Regions from separate parts of the Homo sapiens genome. Here regions 2, 3 and 4 are each linked to region 1. The links come from fine-mapping of genetic effects on gene expression. A gene starts in region 1. Each other region holds a variant in brackets. All regions are shown on one strand. Distances are from middle to middle.

What was found.
Region 2: its variant is fine-mapped to the expression of TSPAN10 in cerebral cortex (GTEx, PIP 0.98).
Region 3: its variant is fine-mapped to the expression of TSPAN10 in caudate (GTEx, PIP 0.91).
Region 4: its variant is fine-mapped to the expression of TSPAN10 in iPS cells (HipSci, PIP 0.95).

The regions. Positions count from the first base shown.
Region 1 is chr17:81,634,722-81,640,759 of GRCh38, forward strand. It overlaps TSPAN10 (tetraspanin 10), which reads left to right and starts at 2,475. Exons shown (of 4, transcript NM_001290212.2): 1 at 2,475-2,685. NPLOC4 (NPL4 homolog, ubiquitin recognition factor) reads right to left here and starts at 2,391. Exons shown (of 17, transcript NM_017921.4): 1 at 2,195-2,391. The coding sequence starts at 2,209. RefSeq lists a silencer at 2,121-2,330.
Region 2 is chr17:81,685,479-81,690,478 of GRCh38, forward strand. It overlaps HGS (hepatocyte growth factor-regulated tyrosine kinase substrate), which reads left to right. Exons shown (of 22, transcript NM_004712.5): 2 at 127-211; 3 at 834-909; 4 at 1,525-1,617; 5 at 3,226-3,349; 6 at 4,704-4,756. Among named protein-coding and RNA genes, the nearest start is that of HGS, 4.0 kb to the left of the region's middle. The variant A/G (reference allele first, on the strand shown) is at 2,300.
Region 3 is chr17:81,713,790-81,719,827 of GRCh38, forward strand. It overlaps SLC25A10 (solute carrier family 25 member 10), which reads left to right. Exons shown (of 11, transcript NM_012140.5): 2 at 1,164-1,283; 3 at 1,689-1,803; 4 at 1,904-1,952; 5 at 2,220-2,261; 6 at 3,023-3,066; 7 at 3,213-3,283; 8 at 3,610-3,702; 9 at 3,995-4,072. Among named protein-coding and RNA genes, the nearest start is that of SLC25A10, 4.5 kb to the left of the region's middle. The variant T/TGCCTCACCCCTG (reference allele first, on the strand shown) is at 3,178.
Region 4 is chr17:81,595,545-81,601,582 of GRCh38, forward strand. It overlaps NPLOC4 (NPL4 homolog, ubiquitin recognition factor), which reads right to left. Exons shown (of 17, transcript NM_017921.4): 9 at 4,797-4,883; 10 at 1,701-1,772; 11 at 572-698. Among named protein-coding and RNA genes, the nearest start is that of NPLOC4, 39 kb to the right of the region's middle. RefSeq lists enhancers at 2,875-2,994, 5,882-6,038. The variant CA/C (reference allele first, on the strand shown) is at 2,550.

The DNA of each region.
Region 1 (6,038 bases):
ATAACAGGTGCATGCCACCACACCCGGCTAATTTTTTATTTTTAGTAGAGACAGGGTTTCACCATGTTGGTCAGGCCAGTCTTGAACTCCTGACCTCGTGATCCGCCCACCTCGGCCTCCCAAAGTGCTGGGATTACAGGCGTGAGCCACTGCATGGCCACATTTTATTTTTCAAAGGAGTCAAAGGTTTCTTGGCCGGGCATGGTAGCTCAGGACTGTAATCCTAGCAATTTTGGGACCCCAAGGTAGGAGGATCCCTCGAGCTCAGAGACCAGCCTGTACAACATAGTAGAGACCTCATCTCTATAAAAAAATGTTTTTAATTAAAAAGATTTAAAGGCCAGGCGCGGTGGCTTATGCCTGTAATCCCAGCATTTTGGTATGCCAAGGCGGGCGGATCACGAGGTCAGAAGTTCGAGATCAACCTGGCCAACACGGTGAAACCCCATCACCACTAAAAATAAAAAAGACATCAGCCATGCGTGTTGGCGAGCACCTGCAACCCCAGCTACTCGGCTGAGGCAGGAGAATTTCTTGAACCCGAGAGGCGGAGGTTGCAGTAAGCAGAGATCGCACCACTGAACTCCAGCCTGGGCGACAGAGTGAGACTCCATCTCAAAAAAATAAAATAAGGTTAAAAAAAAAAAAAAAAAAGGAGTCGACGTTTCCTAAGTTTCTCCTGGGCCATATATTCATTCCACTCATCTCCAGGTTGGGAAACATGGAGGCACCAAGAGGGCCCCTGACTGGAGAGATGATGGAACCACCAGAGAACAGCCTTGCAAATAAGTGCTAGGTTCTCCTGGAGACCCATTTGTTTGTGTGTGTGAGACAGTCTCATTCTGTCGCCCAGGGTGGAGTCCAGTGACGCCACCTAGGCTCACTATGTTGTCCAGGCTGGTCTTGAACTCCTGACCTCAGGTGATCCACCCACCTGGGCTTCCCAAAGTGCTGGGATTACAGGTGTGAGTCACCGCGCCGGGCCTGGAGACCTATTCTAGACAACACCTGGCAAAACTGCAGAGACTGTCACAATGCTACAGTATGAACATTACTCTTCACCCAATACTGCTAAGCTTCCCCCAGAAATCCCAAATCTTCCTTAATATTAACCAAAATGCTCCTGTCCAATGGTCAGTTAGTTTTTTTCCCATCACATTTACTTTTGGGAAGAAACTTCTCACAACTTAACGAGGGACTGGTTTTCTGATTTGTCACTGATATTTTTTACGTTAAGGAGGAGTGTGTGACAATTTTTTTTTTTTTTTTGAGACGCAGTCTCGCTCTATAGCCCAGGCTGGAGTGCCATGGAGGGATCTCAGCTCACTGTAACCTCCACCTCCCGCGTTCAAGCAATTCTCCTGCCTCAGCCTCCCAAGTATCTGGGATTACAGTGCGCCATGACGCCCGGCTAATTTTTTGTATTTTTAGTAGAGACAAGATTTTGCCATGTTGGCCAGGATGGTCTCGAACTCCTGACCCCAGGTGATCCACCCGCCTCGGCCTCCCAAAGTGCTGACATCACAGGCGTGAGCCACTGCGCCGGGCCGACAATTTCAATTTCAGGTAAAAAGTGAAATCAACATCATTTACAACATTCCTTTTAAAGAGGAATTGTCAAGTTGTCCTTCCAAGTAAGGAGCAAAGCCGGCAAGTTACTGTGTTTTCATTTTCCCAGGTCTTCTGGTGGGGAGGGAGCTCTGTAACGTCCCCGTCTGCAGAGCTGCTCTCCTTAGTGACTCATGACAAGGCACTTGCTGGGAAGCGGGAGAGCAGGAGGAGAGAATCAGAGGGAGATTAGGATAAGAGGTGTCCCTGGCTCTGAGAGGGGCAGGACTGGCTGGGAGTCCCTGGAATTAGACCAGGAAGTCTCCTGGAGCCGGGAAACGGGTGGGGAAGGAGGGCGGTTTCTCTTCGCCACAGTCCATTCTCCCTGCTTAGAAAGGCTCGGCCTTTCCCTGCCCAGGGCGGGGAACCGGGGTCGTAAGTCCCCTGGGGAGGGACACGGACGGGAAGCAGCCGAGGGGGGTGAAAGTCCCCGAGAGGGGCCCAGCCACTACAGAGAAAGCCCTGGCGAGAGAAGAGAAAGGGGCCGAGTCGCGGCGCCGGCAGGCCCGCCTCCCCCACAGGCCGAGGCCGGCAAATCTGCTGCCTCATCCCGGCGTCCCCGCTCCCGCCCGGCCGCCGCACTCACGATGCTCTCGGCCATGGCGGCTGCTCCTGCCTCCGGGCTCGAGCCCCGGGCCGCCGCCGCCTGCCGCCCCAAGGGCCTCGCAGACCCGGCCGCGGCCTCAGCCCCGGCCCCGGCCTCCCTACGCCGCCGCCACCGCCGCTCCAGCTTCGCCCGCCCGGCTCCGCCAGCCGCCGACGTCCCGGTGCCTCGCTCAATACGCTCCCCTCGGGCGCGAGGCCGGGAAACCAGGTTCCGGCCCCACCAACGGCTCGACGCATGCGCAGGGCGGCGCCGCTGACCCGCCCCCGCCATCCCTGCAACTGGAGGAGGGGATTTTGGAAAGTTGCGTCTGAGATTACTTCTGCTCGTCCTCGGAAACCCAAGCGGCACAGGAAAGTCCAAAAAGGAAGCAAAGACGAGCATCCGAAGTCTCACCCAAAAATAACTACTGCTGCGTATTATAGCGTATTATAATTGGGGAAACAGCATTCCAAACTTCTCTCCATGCACAGGTAAGTAGAGAAACAATTTCAGGAAGGCAGGATCACACCTTCATGTTTTTTTTTTTAAGTATTTTTTAAATTTAACATAAGAAAAACAAACGAGTTTAAACTGCATTTCAGGCCGGGCGCGGTGGCTCATACCTGTAATCCCAGCATTTTGGGAAGCCAAGGTGGACGGATCACCTGAGGTCAAAAGTTCGAGACCAGCCTGGCCAAAATGGTGAAACCCCGTCTCTACTCAAAATACAAAATTAGGCCATACGCGGTGGCTCACGCCTGTAATCCCAGCACTTTGGGAGGCCGAGGCAGGTGGATCACCTGAGGTCAGGAGTTCAAGACCAGCCTGACCAACGTGGTGAAACCCCGTCTCTACTAAAAATACAAAAATTAACTGGGCGTGGTGGCGGGCACCTGTAATCCCAGCTACTCGGGAGTCTGAGGCCGGAGAATCTCTTGAAGCGAAGAGGCGGAGGTTAGAATGAACTGAGTTGGTGCCACTGCACTCCAGTCTGGGCGACAGAGTGAGACTTCATCTCAAAAAAAAAAAAAAAAGACGTCACTTCACAGATTCTAAGGATTTTTGGAGTTGGATACCAGGAAACCGGAAGACTAAATGTATACATATTTCACAACATCACAATTACTGTGACAGTTTTTTTAAACTATGTTAAATTACATTAATTGATTAAATTATGTTAGTAATTGTATTAGTTTGCTCAGGGTGCCACTGTAACTACCCAACATATTGTCCCTGCCCACTGCCTAGACTTTATCAAGACAGGGGAATTGCAATAAAGAGTTTAATTCACACAGAGCCAGCTTGTACAGGTTACTGAGGTTTTATTACTACTCAAAAAAAATTAGTGTCCTTGAGAATTCAGGGATCAGAGTTTTTTGTTTTTTGTTTTTTTTTGTTTTTGAGTCCGAATCTCACTCTGTCACCCACACTGGAGTGCAGTGGCGCGATCTCGGCTCACTGCAACCTTCACCTCCTGGGTTCCAGTGATTCTCCTGCCTCAGCCTCCCGGGTAGCTGGGACTACAGGCGCACACTACCATGCCTGGCTAATTTTGTATTTTTCGTAGAGACGGAGTTTCTCCATGTTGGTCAGGCTGGTCTTGAACTCCTGACCTCAGGTGATCCGCCCACCTGGGCCTCCCCAAAGTGCTGGGACTATAGACGTGAGCCACCGTGCCCGGCTGGGGATCCGCGGTTTTAAGGATAATTTGGTGGGTATGGGGTCAGAAAGTAGGGAGTGTTGATTGGTTGGGTCAGAGGTGAAATGATAGGGAGTCAAAACTGTCCTCTTGTGCTGAGTCGGTTCCTGGGTGGGGGCCACAAGATATGAGCCAGTTTATCAATCTGGGTGGTGCCAGCTGATCCATGGAGTGCAGAGTCTGCAAAATATCTCAAGCGCTGATCTGTTTTTTAATAGTGATGTTATCCTGAGAAGCAATTTGGGAGGTTTAGAATCTTGTAGCCTCCAGCTACATGACTCCTAAACCATAATTTCTAATCTTATGGCTAATTTGTTAGTCCTGAAAAGGCAGTCTTGTCCCCAGGTAGGAAGGGAGTTTGTTTTGCAAAGGGCTGTTACCATCTTTGTTTCAAAGCTAAACTATAAACTAAGCGCCTCCCGAAGTTATTTCAGCCTACACCCAGGAATGAACAAGGACAGCTTGGAGGTTAGAAGCAAGATGGGTTCAGTTAAGTCCGATCTCTTTAACTGTAATAATTATCTCAGTTATAAGAAAATATAACATAACAAAATCTCTCACAGACTGGGTGGTGGTTTGGAATTACTTTTCTTTTTTTTTTTTTTTTTTTTTGAGTCGGATCTCCCTCTGTCGCCCAGGTTGGAGTGCAATGGCGCGATCCCAGCTCACTGCAACCTCCGCCTCGTGGGTTCAAGCGATTCTCCTGCCTCAGCCTCCTGAGTAGCTGAGATTACAAGCGTGCGCTACCACGCCCGGCTAATTTTTATATCTTTAGTAGAGACAGGGTTTCACCATGTTGGTAAGGCTGGTCTCGATCTCCTGACCTCGTGATCCACCCGCCTCAGCCTCCCAAAGTGCTGGGATTATAGGCATGAGCCACCATGCCCGGCCTGGAATTACTTCCTAACAGTCCTGGAAGCTAGAATCCCAGATCAAGGTGTCAGTAGACGTGGTTTCTCCTTTGTTTTCTTCTTTTTTTTTTCTTTTAAGGCTGGGGTCTTGGCCGGGCGCGGTGGCTCACGCCTGTCATCCCAGCGCGGTGGCTCACGCCTGTCATCCCAGCACGGTGGCTCATGCCTGTCATCCCAGCGCGGTGGCTCACGCCTGTCATCCCAGCACTTTGAGAGGCCGAGGCAGGTGGATCACGAAGTCAGGAGATCGAGACCATCCTGGCTAATATGGTGAAACCCTGTCTCTATTAAAAATAAAAAAAAAATTAGCCGGGCGTGGTGGCGGGTGCCTGTAGTCCCAGCTACTCGGGAGGCTGAGGCAGGAGAATGGCGTGAACCCGGGAGGCAGAGCTTGCAGTGAGCCGAGATCACGCCACTGCGCTCCAGCCTGGGCGACAGAGCAAGACTCCGTCTCAAAAAAAAAAAAAAAAGAAAAGACTGGGGTCTCACTCCCATCGCCGAGGCTGGAGTGCAGTGGCACAATCGTGGCTCACTGTAGCCTCGACTTCCCAGGCTCAGGTGATACTCCCACCTCAGCCTCCTCAGTAGCTGGGACCACAAGTGCTCACAATCACACCTGGCTAACTTTTTGTATTTTTAGTAGAGATGGGATCTTGCTATGTTGCCCAGGCTGGTCTCTAACTACTACTAGGTTCAATCAATCCACCCACCTCAGCCTCCCAAAGTGCTTAGATTACAGGCATAAGCCGCTGTACCCAGCCAGGTTTCTTCTTATACCTCTCTCCTTAGCTCGAAGATGGCACCTTCTCCCCGAGACCTCACATGTTTTTTCTTCTGTGCACACATTCCTCGTGTCTCTCCATGTGTCCCACCGTGTGTCCCAATTTTCTTGTAAGGATGTTGGATTAGGGCCCACGCTAATGGCACTTATTTATTTATTTAGGGATGGAGTCTTGCTCTGTCACCAGGCTGGAGTGCAGCGGCACCATCTCGGCTCACTGCAACCTCTGCCTCCTGGGTCCCAGCAATTCCCCTGCCTCAGCCTCCCATGTAGCTGGGATTACAGGCATGCGCCACGATGCCCAGCTAATTTTTTGTACTTTTAGTAGAGACAGGGTCACACCATGTTGGCCAGGCTGGTCTCAATCTCCTGACCTCATGATCCACCTGCCTCGGCCTCCCTAAGTGCTGGAATTACAGGTGTGAGCTACCGCGCCCAGCCCCTAATGGCCTT
Region 2 (5,000 bases), 50 kb after region 1:
CTTTTTCATTTGGTCCAAATGTCTAAAGGGGAAGGAGAGAGTCCCCCCCAGCTGCTGCCAAGCTGGGGTGCTGCACGGGGCGTCCAGCAGGATAACCCCTCCCTTTCATGGCATTTTCTCTCTCAGACAAGGCGACCAGCCAGCTCCTGTTGGAGACAGATTGGGAGTCCATTTTGCAGATCTGCGACCTGATCCGCCAAGGGGACACACAGTGAGTTAGCGGGGCCTGTGCCCTGATGCGGAGGAGCAGCCGTGCACTAAGCTGGGCTCGCTTGGTGCCCGTTGGGTCTCCACGACGTAGCTGACCGTGTTAGGCTCTTATGTGGAGAACTGCATGGGCTACATGCTAGGATTTTTTGACATCTTGGAGGATTAAGGGGTTTTCTCTGTACAGCTTGCAGATACCTGGTTATGTTTGTATTTGCTTCGGGGTTCTCAAAGACTAAGATGGCAGACAGACTTTTTTTTTTAAGACGGGGCCTTGCTTTGTCACCCAGGCTGAAGTGCAGTGGCGTGATCTCAGCTCACTGCAGCCCCTGCCTCCCAAGCTCAAACGATCGTCCCACCTCAACCTCCTGAGTAGCTGGGACTACAGGCATTCACCATCACGCCCGGCTGATTTTTTGTATTTTGGTAGAGATGGGTTTTTGCCGTAATGCACAGGCTGGTCTCAGACTCCTGGGCTCAAGCAATCCTCCTGCCTTGGCCTCCCAAAGCACTGGGATTACAGGCGTGAGCCACTGCACCTGGCAGCAGATGAGCTTTTCTCATCTTAGTTGCTGAGACTATTTTTTTCCCGTTTTTCTCTGCTTTTATCAATGTTTCCTTTTCAGAGCAAAATATGCTGTGAATTCCATCAAGAAGAAAGTCAACGACAAGAACCCACACGTCGCCTTGTATGCCCTGGAGGTAAGCAGACCCCCGTGCCTCAGTGGCCCCCAGGGTCCCTACCCCCTACTAGTCACGACAGCATGAGAAGAGTTTGTCCTGTGGCCTTGCCCACCTCCCTGGGCATACATCAAGCAGGAGAGTTTCCACTCAGCCTTGAGTGCCTGTGTGAACAGTGCCACCTAGGAGAGGGTCACGCTGAGGGAGAGACAGGAGATAGGGGAGGGAGTGGGCACCACTTCTTCAGCCGGTCCTGCGTGAGTAAACACCAGAAGGCGGATGTCATTGCTGTGCTTGGCAGTGAGACTTGGCGTCACGGAGCGGTGCTGTGCAGGCTGCTGAGTCTCAGATGTGGGTTCCCCACTGGCCTGACGGGCCTGTTGAAGGGCTGCTGTCCCACCGGGTTCCCCACCGGCCACTGACGGGCCTGTCGAAGGGCTCTGCTGTCCCACCGGGTTCCCCTCCGGCCACTGACGGGCCTGTCGAAGGGCTCTGCTGTCCCACCGGGTTCCCCACCGGCCACTGACGGGCCTGTCGAAGGGCTCTGCTGTCCCACAGGGAGGTGGGTCTGTCCGGGAGGAGGAGGGGCCCTGCCCTGACCACTGGCCCAACCCTTCCCTTCCTGGGCATCTGCAGGTCATGGAATCTGTGGTAAAGAACTGTGGCCAGACAGTTCATGATGAGGTGGCCAACAAGCAGACCATGGAGGAGCTGAAGGACCTGCTGAAGGTGGGTGAGACGGGGGCATGCGGGTGGCCACCCAGGCTGGCACCTTTGCTTCTCCGGGTGTTTACTGGGCACTGATGACAGAACAGCACCAGGTGTGGCGGAAAATGTGCAGGTGCAGATCGGTGGTCCCTGCACTGCGCAAGCTCGCACTCATGAGTCGGAGAGACAGGGCCGTGAGCCCCAATCCAGGGAGGTCAGGGTTTAGCAGGAGCCGGCCTGGGGTGCTGTGTCTGGAGGACCAAGGTGACAGCGACCCTGGGGCCTGGGGGAAGCTTCCGGGAGGCAGGGCTTGGGCACCTGCTGTCTTAGGGAAGGTGAGTAGATGCCACTGGGTGGGCAGGGCAGGTGGTGGCTATCGTGTGTGAGAGTGGCTGTGGTCCGGAGGGCAGGCTGGCCACATCCCACAGGCAGGGGCCTGGGAGGGCTCTGAGCGGGGGCTTGTAAGATCGGATGTGTCTGGCGGGGATAAGAGCTGTTTTGGAGAGCGAGGGCTTCATGCTTTCCTGGGCAGAGGAGGAAAAGCCCTCCAGATCCCCAGGAGATTGTGCCGGGGACATCTGCAGGGATTGTGCTGGGGACACCTGCAGGGACTGTGATGTGGACTGTGATGCAGTGGGGATGCTGTTGCAGGTGTCAAGGAGAAAGAGTGTCCCATGTAGTCAGGCTGCTCCCCTTCTGTCCC[A/G]ACCTGTGGGCCAGACCTGGGTCTCATAGGAGACTCCCTGGACTCACACAGCTGAGAACCTGCCCGGGGATCCCGGTGGACAGCCAGGCCTCTCAAAGGCCCTCACTGGCCACTTTGGCTGGCTTCCTGTCCCGTCCTGTCCTGGCTGAGAGGCGGAAGGTGCCGGAGTCTGGCCCTGCCCGACCCTGGTGCTCCTGAGCTCCTTCAGTCAGGCTGCAGATCCTGAGCCGGTTCGCTCCTCTGGGGTGAGGCAGGGCTGTGAAGGGAAGGCGCCGCTGAGGATGCAGAGGGGTTCTGGAAAGGAGCTTAGGCTGAGGTGCAAGTGCCCCGGAGCCTGCTTGCAGCAGCCTCTGATCGCACGCCGTCCTGCACGTCACACCGGGACGGCGTCCCCGAGAGGGCCGTAGACGCGAGGCCAGGCTGCGCTCTAACCGGGGGAGAGGATGGCTGCAGGGGGTCTGGAGCCCGCTCTGAATTTGGAGGCATTTCTGGAGCGGCTGCCCCCCGCGTCTCCCCGGCTGTGACTGGAAGGAGGGGCGTGGCCAGAGCCCCGCAGTACCCCTGTGTTCTCAGCCCCAACACCACGCTGCCACCGTCAGGCCTGCCGGGTCCTGCCTGTTGGAGGCTGACGGGAACCGGGGATCCTGGGGTGGGCAGGTCCCGTGGGGAAAGGGAGAGACAGATGGTCAGGGGCACAGAGACGCGGCGTTGTTTGGCTCCAGCAAGTAGAGGCAGGCGTGAGGTTTGAACTCAGGGTCTGGGAACAGGTTGGTGCATGGCCCCCACGCCCCACTCGGGGGGCCCTCCCTGGCCTCTGTGTCAGCCCCATCTGCTCAGAGGCTGAGGTCTGCCAGCTGCTTCCTCACACCGAGGCCTCTGGCGCCTGGAGTGTCCTGCGACCCTCACCCCCTTCTCCCTGCCTGCAGAGACAAGTGGAGGTAAACGTCCGTAACAAGATCCTGTACCTGATCCAGGCCTGGGCGCATGCCTTCCGGAACGAGCCCAAGTACAAGGTGGTCCAGGACACCTACCAGATCATGAAGGTGGAGGGTGAGTCAGGACTGAGGTTGGGACCAGGTTGAGGCTTGGAACTGCTGGGCAGTCAGGCTCAACGGGCACAGTGGCGAGGGGCCTGGGAAGATGGGTTGTTCCCTGTGTTGGGAGGGAGGAGGGCGGTGGCCTGGAGCCAGGGAAGACCGTGCATGTGAGGGCGGGTTCAGACCGGCTCCTGCCTTTCTGGACCCACGGCCCACGGGCAGGGGCAGGCAGTGATGGCAGACAACACACAGGTGAAAAGGCAGCAGACAGCCTGTTTCAGAGTGGCAGGACTCCTGGGGGCCGGGTTGGGCTGTGCAGTCAGGGAAGGCCTCTGAAGGAGCTGTCCCAAGTGTCGAGACTGGAACAGAAGCCAGAGCCGGCGTGAGCAGGCAGGCAGCACCCGTGGGCAGACACTCAGGGTTGAGGCCCCAGGGCAGAAAGGTGGCCAGCGTGCCAGAGGAGAGTGCAGCCGGGCCTGTGCGCCGAGGGCCTCCAGGCTGTTGGGCTGGAGTTCAGGGTTGCTGTCAGCGCAGCAGGAGGCCTCTGGTGGGTTTTCGTCTAGGTCGTGGCTGCCAAGGTGTGTTTCTTAAGGGTCCCTCTCGGCCATTGTGGCCGTGGAGAACTAGGGGATTGTGTAGAGAGAGGTGGGGGCTTCAGGATGCATTTGGGAGTCTTGGCTGGTGCTCAGGGCCCACTCAGTGAGAGAGAGGTGGGCATGGCTGCTCACATCTGTGCGGGTTCTCTGTGGCCCTGAGTCTGCTGAAGACGAGGCTGAGAGCGTGGGGAATGGGGCAGGCTCCAGGGGTGGTGCGTCCCCGCTGCAGGAGTTGGACGCTTGCCCTGTGGCTGCAGGGTGGGCAGGACCAGTGTGGAGAACACGGGAAGAACGCAGGGGGCGCTGCACGAGCTGCCTTGGACCCTCAACTTTGGGGTGGTGGATGCTGGTGGTCTGTGCTCCTGTCTCCTTCCTGGGGTGGGAGCTCTCCTGGATTTTTTCTGGGGTCGTGTGTCAAGAATAGCTCAAGGTCTTGTCCTCAGGATCAGTGGGAGCCCTGGCCAGAGAGCAGAGGGTGAGGGAGCCACTCAGCAGGCGGGGCCACGCAGGGGCCTCATGCCCTGATGGAGTGGGAGCAGTGTCTCAGGAAGAGGGCAGCAGGGCCTGGCTCTTGTCTCCCGCCACAGTGAGGACAGAGGCCCCATGGGGACACCCAATCTTGGGGGCAGGAGGCTGTCTCGGTGCCCCCAGACACCTTCACTTGGGTGCACGGTCACTGCTGCGTTGCAGCTGCCGAGAGTGAGGAAGGGGCTCCCGGAAGTCTTGCAGGCCAGGTGGGAGCAGGCAGTGACTATGGCTTCATCTCTCCAGGGCACGTCTTTCCAGAATTCAAAGAGAGCGATGCCATGTTTGCTGCCGAGAGAGTGAGTGTGGGCGGCCGCCAGGGGTTCTGGAGTCGGGCTGCTCAGGAAGCGTGAAGGGGAGTGCTGGGAGCCCGGCTTGTTTGAGGGTTGGTGGCTGAGCTCTCGTCTGTCTGGGACCTGAGGATGCCTGTGTGTCCTGGGCGGAGGCGTAGCAGCTGTCTCTGCAGGGCGAGGTGGAGACGTGGCTTGAGGGCCTTTAGAGTGGCTAGGGGGCTCGGGAAAGGAAAACAAGCACCTTTGATGA
Region 3 (6,038 bases), 79 kb after region 1:
TGCCCCTTGGCCCTCCCCAACCAGGCGCTCTCTGGCTGCAGAACACCGCCTGGGGGAGGCGGGACTGCCCTCTGGCCTGGGAGGGCGGGAGGAGCCAGCTGCTGGCAGCATATGGCGCTGTGGTCAGGGTGTGCTCCTGAGGACTGCTCACCAGGCCTCTCTGCCTGGCCGTCGGAAAGATCTTTTAAAGCTTCTTGAGCACTTTGTCCCATGTCCCTACAGTCCCTACCGTCGCATCTGGCCGGGACGGGGGCTGCTACCTGTGTGGCCCAGTCCCTCTGTTCTGCTGGGCTCGCACAATGGGAGGCCCCTCTCTGTCCCCACCCATCTTTGCCGACCCCTGGGCGTGCGTTACGGGGCCGCGCACGTGCAGGTCACACTGAGCGGCGGAAGGACTTCTTTGGGGTCAGTGCTGGGGGTGGGACCCAGGAGCTGGGATCCTGGGCCAGGTGCTGGCCTTCCTGTCTGGCCCTGGCCAATCCCCCTACTGCCGGGAGCTCTCAGCTGGCCAGGCGAGGAGGCAGAGGTCCTGTGAGTGGTGGAGGCCAACAGAATGGGAGGTTGTCGGGCTGACAGCCCCCGAGTGCCTGCCCACAGCTCCTAGGTGCTTTGCAGAGGAGGCCGCTATGCCCTGCCGCCAGCCACACCGTCCCCTTGTCTGCTGCTGAGCTCCTGCTGCCTTTCAAGGCCTTCTATGGCTACCTCCTCAGTCTCCCATGGTCCTGCAGGCTCCCTCGCCGTTTCTGAGCGGCCATAAACGTTTGTCCCTCTTGAGACGTGGTGTGGTGGATAAAAAGTAGGGCTCTGGGGTCTCCTCGCTGGGCCCAAATCCTGATGGCACCAGCGGGTGCGTTACCTCTCCATGCCTCAGTTTCCTCATCTGCAGAAGGAGAATGGCGAGCCCCTGCGGCCAGTGCAGCCAATACTCAGGTGGTACGCGGGGCGCTCGCGGGGCTCGCGGACACTCTCAGCTCCATGTCCACTGGTGTGGTTGCTGTTGGAAAGCAGTGGTGTGAGCTGGTTCCAGGCACGGGTGTGGAGTCCCCGGGCAGGGCCGTGGGAGGCCTTATCACTGCCTCCTGCCTCAGTTTCCCCCTCTCTGGATGAACCTGGCACCGATCCCTCGGGGTCGCTGTGGGGTCTGAGAGCACTCACTCCCGCAGGTGCATCTGCAGACGCAGCAGGAGGTGAAGCTGCGCATGACGGGCATGGCGCTGCGGGTGGTGCGTACCGACGGCATCCTGGCACTCTACAGCGGCCTGAGCGCCTCGCTGTGCAGACAGGTGCGTGGTGTGTGCCAGCCTTGGGCTCCCAGACTGGGGCTGAGTCCTGCAGTGGCATCCAAGCTACTTCCGTCCCCTTTTCAAGACTTTGTGCAAGGAAGGACCCACCAGGCCGAGAGCTGGTGACCCCAGGGTGCGCCTCCCATGGGCACCCACCCAGTTTGCAGGGCTGGGCCTGAGACCGCCACTTACTGGTGGGGAAGCTGAGGCCCAGGGAGTGAGAAAGCAGGGTGCAGCTCTAGATTTGTGAACTGGCTCAGCCGCATGCTGGCACAGTGGCCTTGGGAAGGCCCCTCAGGGTCCCTGTGGCCCCTCGGGCTGAGGGGGATCCCTGGCTGGGCCGGGTGGCGAGGCTGAGGGGTGTGGGGCGTGCCCGTCCCTCCAAGCCAGGCCCTTCTCCCCCAGATGACCTACTCCCTGACTCGGTTCGCCATCTACGAGACTGTGCGGGACCGTGTGGCCAAGGGCAGCCAGGGGCCTCTCCCCTTCCACGAGAAGGTGTTGCTGGGCTCCGTCAGCGGTGAGCTGCCGGGCGGGAGGGGGAGGGGCGCGGGGTGGTCAGGTCGGCCGAGGACGCCGTGTGTCAGCACGGCTCATCTCTGGGGTTTGTGTCACCGCAGGTTTAGCTGGAGGCTTCGTGGGGACGCCCGCAGACTTGGTCAACGTCAGGTTGGTGTTCCCCCACCCCACCTGCAAGGCCAGGGGCTTTCTTGTCCCCAGACATGCCAGGGCCTGCCAGGGCTGCTTGCAGGGTGGGGTCAGCCTGGAATAAGCCACTGAGACCCTGGTGTCCTGGGCATAGGAGGGTGGGTGTCCCTGAGCCCCGGCGTGCCCTGTCCTGTGGGCCCCGCTGACCAGCGTGAGCTCCCCTGTGCTGCCAGGGCTGCCCATGCCCCTCGGCCCGCCCGCCCCTCCCGCCACCTGCTTCTGTTTCAGGATGCAGAACGACGTGAAGCTGCCCCAGGGTCAGCGGCGCAAGTGAGTCATGGGCGGCCTTCTCGGGGTGGTTGAGGTGCAGGAGGCTCGGGCGGGAGCGGACCCCTGGCTGCTCTGCCGTGACCCAGCTGAGGCTCCAGCAGGCCGAGGTGCCTGCACGGTCCATGGAGGGTCCTGACGGCTGTTCTGGACTCGGGGGTGTCACTCTGCGCCCCCAGGACCTTTGGGTTCTTCCTGTGGGGAGAGCCTTGTTGGATTGGGGGCTGGGCCTGTTTGCACCCCAGGGTGGTGAGTGCGGAGGCGAACGCCCCAGGCATGGAGAGAGCGCATGCAACAGAAACGCCCGAAGGAGGCGCTGCCTCCCTGCCCAGCTCAGGGCAGCTGTGCCCTCCTGCCACGGCCTGGGGTCTTTCCAGGGCCCGGGGTCCGCTCCAACTGCAGTGTGAGCCACTTCCCCCGCCCCTTCCAAGGACCCCTGGGGAGTTCTGGCTTCTAGCTGTGCACACAGACTGTGTTCCCCCAGGACCCCGGGGGCTGGCGGGCAGGAGGCCTGCATGCTAGGAGCGGTGCCCAGCCAGGGACTCTGTTGGAAACGATGGAACCTCCTCCCTGAGGGCCGGGCGGGGCGGGCGAGGTGGCTGTGGGACGTCAGGACCAGCTTCATGTTCCCAGGGAGAGATCTTCAGGCCCATGAGGCCTCTGCTTCCTCGAGAACCCCCGGCCTGCCTCGGGGCCTGGGAGGACCCTCTGTGGGAGCCGGTGGTCAGGGGGAGTCTCATGTGGTCATTCTGTGTCCCCGGCAGCTACGCCCATGCGCTGGATGGCCTGTACCGCGTAGCTCGTGAAGGTGAGGGGCAGGTGCTGTGCACAGGCAGGGTTCTGGGGGGCAGGCAGGGTGGGCAGCGCTGTAGAAGACTGGGCGCTGAGGGATTTGGGCCAGGTGCCTGGCCTCACCCCT[T/TGCCTCACCCCTG]GCCTCACCCCTTGCCTCACCCCTTCCTTGTGCAGAGGGTCTCAGGAGACTGTTCTCGGGTGCAACCATGGCATCCAGCCGAGGGGCCTTAGTCACTGTGGGCCAGGTAGGCCTCCTGCGTGGGGTGGGTGTGGGCAGTGCCTGTGACCACTGACCTCCATCTTCAGAGGGGCCATAGAACAAGGCACTGGGCGCCAAAACCCTCCTGGGGAGCCACCAGCTGTGACCTTGTGGGGCAGGGTGGGGGGCACGGGTGGGTCAGGGCTGCAGCCTGTGAAGGACCTCGGGCAGGTGCCTCCCCTGTCTGGGCCTCACGGACGGACAGACGGAGCAGGTGCTTGGCCATTGCCAGGTGGTGTCGCCTGGGGCCCTGTGTGCTTTCCCCAAGCTGGGGTCCCCCCTACAGCCCTGACCGCCCTTGTGCCCCTGCAGCTGTCCTGCTACGACCAGGCCAAGCAGCTGGTCCTTAGCACCGGGTACCTCTCTGACAACATCTTCACTCACTTTGTCGCCAGCTTTATTGCAGTAAGTGGCCGGCATGGCTAGGGTGGGCGTCCCTGGGCCGGCCTTGGGCGCTGAGGGCACCCAGGATGGGGCGAGGGCTGGGGGAGGCGGGGGCCTTGGGCATCTGGCAGTGCCCCCTGGGGCTCATAAGTGGGGTGCCAGGGCTTTGGGAGCTCATGGGTCAGCCTGGTGCCCCCGCCAGCATGTTCCTGGCCCGCCCTAGGAGTCAGGTGGAGGTTCTGGCACGTGGGTGGGATTCGGCGATGGTGCCTGGCGTACCTGACAGGCCGCTGGTGACGAGCCCCCTCCTCAGGGTGGATGTGCCACGTTCCTGTGCCAGCCCCTGGATGTGCTGAAGACTCGCCTGATGAACTCCAAGGGGGAGTATCAGGTGAGTGGGGCCCTGCCTGTGCAGTTGGGCTGCACAGCCCAGCGAGTCCCCTCACCTCTCCGGGGGGTGGACACTCGCACTGGGGACCCGGGGAAGGGTGTCCCTCCCTTCTAGTTGCCTGTCTCTGCACAGCACTTGCCTTGGGAGAGGGTTGTGCCTTTGAATGCCTTTGCCTTGTTTTTGTTTTTAGAGAAGACTTCTTGGCCCGGCGCAGTGGCTCATGCCTGTAACCCCAGCACTTTGGGAGCCTGAGGCAGGCAGACTGCTTGAGTCTAGGAGTTCAAGACCAGCCTGGGCAACATACTGAAACCCTGTCTCTACCAAAATTACAAAAATTAGGGGCCAGGTGCGGTGGCTCATGCCTATCATCCCAGCACTTTGGGAGGTCGAGGCAAGCAGATCACCTGAGGTCAGGAGTTCAAGACCAGCCTGGCCAACATGGTGAAACCCCCTCTCTACTAAAAATACAAAAAATTGGCTGGGTGTGGTGGCGTGCGCCTGTAATCCCAGCTACTCGGGAGGCTGAGGCAGGAGAATCGCTTGAACCTGGGAGGCGGAGGTTGCAGTGAGCCGAGATCACACCATTGCACCCCAGCCTGGGCCACAAGAGTGAAACTGTCTCAAAAAAACAAAACAAAACAAAATTGGTCAGGCTTGGTGGTGCATGCCTGTAGTTCCAGCTACACAGGAGGCTGAGGTGGGATAATCCCTTGAGCCCAGGATGTCCAGGCCACAGTGAGCCGAGATTGCACCACTGCATTCCAGCCTGGGTGACAGAGTGAGACTGTCTTAAAACATTTCTTTTCGGCCAGGCACGGTGGCTCACGCCTGTAATCCCAACACTTTGGGAGGCCAAGGCGGGCAGATCACAAGTCAGGAGTTGGAGACCAGCCTGACCAACATGGTGAAACCCCGTCTCTACTAAAAATGCAAAAAAATTAGCTGGGCCTGGTGGCGCACGCCTGTAATCCCAGCTACTCAGGAGGCTGAGGCAGGAGAATTGCTTGAATTCAGGAGGCGGAGGTTGCAGTGAGCCGAGATTGCACCACTGCACTCCAGCCTGGATGACAGAGCGAGACTCTGTCTTAAAAAAACAAAAAACAAAAAAAAACACATTTCTTTTCTTTCTTTTTTTTTTCCCCTCATTGCAACCTCCACCTCCTGGGATCAAGCGATTCTCCTGCCTCAGCCTCCCAAGTAGCTGGGATTACAGGCGCCCGCCACCATGCCCGGCTAATTTTTCATATTTTTAGTAGAGACAGGGTTTCACCATGTCGGCCAGGCTGGTCTTGAACTCCTGACCTCAGGTGATCCGCTTGCCTCGGCCTCCCAAAGTGCTGGGATTACAGGCACGTGCCACCACTCCTGGCTAATTTTTGTATTTTTAGTAGAGACAAGGTTTCGCCATGTTCGCCAGGCTGGTCTTGAACTCCTGGCCTGAAGTGATCTGCCGCCTCAGCCTCCCAAAGTGCTGGGATTACAGGTGTGAGTCACTGTGCCCGGCCAAAAACATTTCTTTCACAGATTAACAGAGGTGGTGCCGTTCATGGCAGTCTGTGCCTCATAGGTGCTCTGGGTCTCCTGTCTTGGGCCCCCGCCAACTCCATGGGGCTTCCACGTTTGCAGAGCCCATAGCTCTGTCCCTTTTCTTCTCCCTGACGCTGCCGTGCTGCATCCCTGATTCTCATGGTTCTGTTCACAGCCCCCTCTGCCCACTGGACCCCGGGCTGCACCCTCGGGCCCTGGTTGTACCGCATGAGCAGGCAGGGTGGCCGTTGACCTGGCTGGTGCCTGCAGACCTGTGGTCACCTGTTACCAGCCAGCAGCCGCCGCTCACACCCACACCCACACCCACACCCCACATTGAGAATGCCCAGGCCACCGTGCCTGGCTGGTGCCTGGGAGGGGATTTTCGTTGCCTTTTGGGTGAGAAGCAGCCTTTTTGATTGTTTCACTGCGTTTTCTG
Region 4 (6,038 bases), 39 kb before region 1:
CTTTTCTTTTCTTTTTTTGAGACAGAGGCTCACCCTGTCACCCAGGCTGGAGTGCACTGGCACAAACTCAGCTCACTGCAACCTCCGCCTGATGGGTTCAAGTGATTCTCCTGCCTCAGCTCCTTGAGTAGCTGGGATTACAGGCGCCCACCACCATGCCCAGCTAATTTTTATATTTATAAAGAGATGGGGTTTCGCTATGTTGGCCAGGCTGATCTCGAACTCCTGACCTCAAGCGATCCACTCACCTGGGCCTCCCAAAGTGCTGGGATTACAGGCGTGAGCCACCACGCCCGGCCAAAAAAGTGGACTTTTAATGAGAGCACTGGCCTAGAGGAGAGCTCTGTGGAGGTCCTGATTCTGTTATGAGTTTTGGGGTTTGTGTTTATATAGTTTTATGCTGTTAAGTTGTTCAGAATTTTTACCATAAAAAGAAAGGAGGAATTTATATCCCACAAGCCCAGTAAGAAAGTCCAGTATAACTAAGTTAAGGATAAAAAGCTACCAAAAAGAGGAACAAAATATATTAACGAGGTGGTAATATTTACAGTACATACTGTCCCTGTTATACCTGTAGCCACTGCAGTAACAAACTTGGATCCAAAATGTCCGTCTGGAGAGAGCCGGCACATGTTGGGATGCTTGTTCTGGAAGTCTCCTGCAGTGATGCACTCTTCTGAACTTAGGAAATAGGTGTCCTAAGACAAGAGAAGCAGCCTATCAAATTTTACAGCATCATGCCAAAATATACTTCTATTTCTTCTTTAAAAAATAAGAACTAAGCCAGGAGCAGTGACTCACACCTCTAATTCCAGCACTTTGAGAGGTGGAGGCGGGAGGTCCACTTGAGGACAAGAGTTCGAGACCAGCCTGGCCAACACACCAAAACCTGGTCTCTACTAAAAATAAAAAAATTATCTGGGTATGGTGGTGCACACCTGAACCCAGGAGGAGGAAGCTGTAGTGAGCCGAGATTGTGCCATTGCACTCCAACCTGTGCAACACAGCAAGACTCTGTCTCAAAAAAATAAAAATAAAAAATAAGAACCAAACTATAAAACTCAAAACCACTTTGAAACAAGTATCTACAATTCCTAACCATTACCAATTCCTCATCTAAAACCACTCACGACTAGAAAGGCCAGAAGCACTATGCAAACCACCCCGCCATGGGCTGAGCCCTGAAAATCACTGCTTTATAAAGGTAAGATGGGTTTAGCTCTATGAGACCAAGAGATCCGGCCTTCATTGATCAAGAAGAACTTCTTGAAAAATAATGGGGCCTGAGGGCTGGGCATGGTGGCTCACACCTGTAATCCCAGCACTCTGGGAGGCCAAGGCAGGCAGATCACAAGGTCGAGATCAAGACCATCCTGGCTAACACAGTGAAACCCCATCTCTATTAAAAATACAAAAAAATTAGCTGGGCATGGTGGCAGGCGCCTGTAGTCCCAGCTTCTCCTGAGGCTGAGGCAGGAGAATGGCGTGAACCCGGGAGGCATTGCTAGCGGTGAGCAGAGATTGCGCCACTGCACTCCAGCCTGGGCAAAAGAGCAAGACTCCGTCTCAAAAAATACAAATAAATAAATAATGGGGCCTGAAAGCTAGAACCAGCGGTGCAAAGAGACCCTGATAATGCAGGCCAACACCATCTGTAACCAAGCCATAGGGCCACACGCACAGTCCTGTCTCCACCTCACCTTATTTCGACTGTAGCGGACGGTACCCTTTCGGGTATCTTCTGAGACGAGGTCTGTAAATATCCAGCCAACCTTAAAAAAAGGAAAGTAGCTTTTAAACATCTCCTCAAGATAGACGATGAATGGCTGGGCGCAGTGACTCACGCCTATAATCACAGCACTTTGAGAGGCCGAGGCAGGAGAATCACGAGGTTAAGAGATCGAGACCATCCTGGCCAATACAGTGAAACCCCATCTCTACTAAAAATACAGAAATTAGGCCGGGTGCGGTGGCTCACGCCTGTAATCCCAGCACTTTGGGAGGCCGAGGCGGGTGGATCACCCGAGGTCGGGAGTTCGAGACCAGCCTGACCAACATGGAGAAACCCTGTCTCTACTAAAAATACAAAATTAGTTGGGGTGGTGGCGCATGCCTGTAATCCCAGCTACTCAGGAGGCTGAGGCAGGAGAATCACTTGAACCCGGGAGGCAGAGGTTGCAGTGTGCCAGGATCGCGCCATTGCACTCCAGCCTGGGCAACAAGAATGAAACTCCATCTCAAAAAAAAAAAAAAAAAATTAGCTGGGCGTGGCCGGGTGTGGTGGCTCACGCCTGTAATTCCAACACTTCGGGAGGCCAAGACGGTGGATCACGAGGTCAGGAGATCAAGACCATCCTGGCTAACATGGTGAAATCCCGTCTCTACTAAAAATAGAAAAAAATTAGCCGGGCGTGGTGGCGGGTGCCTGTAGTCCCAGCTACTCAGGAGGCTGAGGCAGGAGAATGGTGTGAACCCGGGAGGTGAAGCTTGCAGTGAGCCGAGATTGCGTCACTGCACTCCAGCCTGGCCCACAGAGCAAGACTCTGTCT[CA/C]AAAAAAAAAAAAAAAAAAAAGATAGATGATGAATGTTTTCTGGCTTCTGCCCAGAGAGCTTAAAAAGAATGTTCTCAGTCAGAAACTCCTTTTTGTGAGCCAGGTGAATCTACATCAACAGGTTCCTCAAGTAAGATGCCAGGCCACACCCAGGGATCTCCATCTCTGTTCAGTAGAAACTGGCCACCCTCCCTCTGGTGCTGCTGGGTTAGAGATGAGTTTCCTCAGCACCAGCTCTGCCCAGCACCATGCTGGGTGCAAGAGACACAGCAGTGAGTGAGACCAACAGAAGGTGAGTGAAAAAGGCACTTAAACTCCCAAGAGGAAGACAGACAACAAGCAAGCAAATAAACATTTCAGAGAGTAGGTCTTTCCTGACAAGCTAAGAAAAAGGATTCCTAGAGAAAGGCACATAATACAAAAGGGGTAATATAATGCAGACTTCACACAGCTGCTCCTGGGAGCTCCACCTCAAGGCCGGAAGGAAGCATCTGAGGGTATGAGGATCTGAAACCTGTGACCCAGCAACCCCTGCACGTTCAGTGTAGCAGTGCCTGTGTGCTGTGTGATCCTTAGGCCCGCCTCTGCCTGTGAATTCCTGCACCAGAAGCCCGTCACGAGGCCACAGGAGCAGCAGTTGAGTCCCGGCAATTGTCACTTCTGTCCTCGGGAAGGATCTGCGGCCCATGACCCTCTCCAGCACTACCTGACACACAACTCTTCCCATCCACCCCCAGCAGACATGACTAGCCCACTGGGAGACTTTCACTGTCTTTAAAGATGCCCCAATGAATGAAAAACCCAAGGTGGTGGCAACAGAGAAAATGAAACTTAAAGGGTTAATTATGCAGTAAATAAAGCAAAATCAAAATCAAACTGAGAAAAATTAGGGCTTAGAAACTCATATTTTAGGCCAGGCACGGTGGCTCACGCCCATAATCCCAGAACTTTGGGAGACCAAGGCGGGTGGATCACCTGAGGTCGAGAGTTCAAGACCAGCCTGGCCAACATGGTGAAACATCGTCTCTATTAAAAATACAAAAATTAACTGGGCGTTGTGGCGGGTGCCTGTAATCCCAGCTACTTGGGAGGCTGAGGCAGGAGAATCACTTGAACCCGGGAGGCAGAGGTTGCAGTGAGCCAAGATCGTGCCACTGCACTCCAGCCTGGGTGAAAGAGCAAGACTCCTCAAAAAAAAAAAATAAAATAAAATAAAAAGAGAAACTTGTGTCTTGCAGAAAATTATTTAAGTAATTTCAAGATTATGAACTGTAAGATTATAACAAATTAGGTCAAAAAATTGGACCAATCTCTTTTAAACAAGAGAACTTCCAGAATTTGAACCCAAATATGCCCCTAAATCAAGATGCTGACTCCTTGTTAGAAACAGGATGTTTCTTTCCTAAAGACAGTAAAACTGTGTGGACTGCTCACTGACACTACTAGGTTTTAAGTCACATTTGCAGTCTCACCCGCTTCATCTGTAGAGAAGATTAAATAATCTAGAGATTATTTTTCATGGTCTGAGTTGATTAGGAAATAAAGGATAAAACATACTTATTAACATTAAACTCGTAAGATATGTTCAAATTCATGGCTCTACATTAATTTATTAAAATTGTTCCTGGGAACTGTATCAATGTCAGATAAACCAGATCAATAGAATAAAAAAGGAAATCCTTTTCTCATCTTCTAACTGTTCCATGAAACTAGGAAGAATTGTAGGCTCAGAGAGCTAAATTATAAACAGGAAATTAAATGATGATTGATGACGGAGCAGCAGAAGCTCCAAGTGCATGGCACAGAACATGAACACTGTCAATGGAATGTCAGCCTTGACTGTCCTCGGCTTCCAAGCTACATGAAGGGAGAGCTCAGGCAGAAGGGACACACATGCACAGAGGAGCCAGCAGGGGTGCGGCTGGGGTCTGTTTCCCACTTGAAGCAGTCCTCATGAAGTGTGGCTGGAAGGCTGAAATATAACAGCCAGATCTGCACTGGGATTTTTTTTTTTTTATGCTCAAGAAAATGTTCTCATTTTAGTTTAAGTCAGAGGAACATAAAGGTTATTGGTGCCCAACAAACATATGTGAAGTTTCAAAACATATAGTGCCTGCACCTGACCTTGTGCAGCCGGAGAGAGCCAGTACCCGACACAGCCCGGCCACTCTCCCAACTCCCCCTGGCCTGGATGCCCAACAGAGCCTGGCCACGCCCCCTGCTTGGCTGCCGGATGCCTCAGTACCTTCCGCAGGCCAAGTTTGGCAGCAATTTCATCGACCACTTCAGCTTTTGGATCCTCAAGAAGCTCCAAGCTGTTCTGTGTACCAATCTGCAGGGAATCAAAGGGAGAAGATGGACTTAGAGCAGAGGGCTCAGGAAGCAGCACCCCAAGCCCTTCCACTTCCAGCTCTAGGTCACAAGGAGTGCTGGGGGCCTCCTTGTCAGAAAGGAGAACTATAGCCACAGATAAAACACATGCGACACGCCTCCCGGCTTCTCTCCTTCTCGGGTTGTGCTGCACCTTTTACCAGGGCTGCAAAACATGTGGCATGCAGGGCCCAGCTGATGTGTGCTGCACAGCTCTGCATCAGGAGCACTCAGGACTAAGGCAAGGCAAGGTCTACACACTCTGCCTGTTTTAAAAGTTCCTTCATCAGGGAATTAAGTTACTTTCAAACTTCCTTGGATAAGTAGCTTCACTCCAAACAGGTTTGGCTAAATTAGGCAAGACTCAAACTGTAAGGTAACATCCATTCCCACAAAACAGCCTTGGAAAATCTGTGTGCCACTCCTGCAGAGACAATGCTTGGCTTCACAGCTAAGATACTCAGTTACAGGGACACTATGAACTCCACAGAGAGCGATGAGCTCACCAACCCTAAGGAAGGGAAAAGGTGTTCAAAAATCAACCACCTCCTTTCATCTGGCACAGGGCAGTCGATGAGTTGTAGCTTCGACTGGCTCCCATGCAACTGAAACCAACCACAGCACATCACTTCCCAGAGTGGACCAAGCTTACCGAAATCATTAATGTTCACTTAAATGTAGCTTGCGGGTCATTCAAAGGTATCATTCTATGCAGAAACCCCAGCCATAAGAATAGGAAAGGTAAAGGTAATCTCAAATTGAGTTACAGTAACTGGGCATATCCTTGTAAATTAGTGAAAATCTGGCAAACCACAAAGAAGTTTACGTTTGCTGGGTATTACCCATATGGAGGTCATTAATACCTCCAGAACGTAGGTTAAATCACAAACTCAGAGAAAAAGCTAAGGAAAAGGAGTTGTTTAATGACATGTGGCAGCATAAGCTGCATAAGCAAATTTTTGTGTGTGTATTTTTAGTAGAAACGGGGTTTTGCCATGTCAGCCAGGCTAGTCTTGAACTCCTGGCCTCAAGTGATCTGCCTTGCCCCTACAAAGTGCTGGGATTATAGATGTGAGCCACCACGGCTGGCCTCAATTATACTTTTAATAGAACCGTT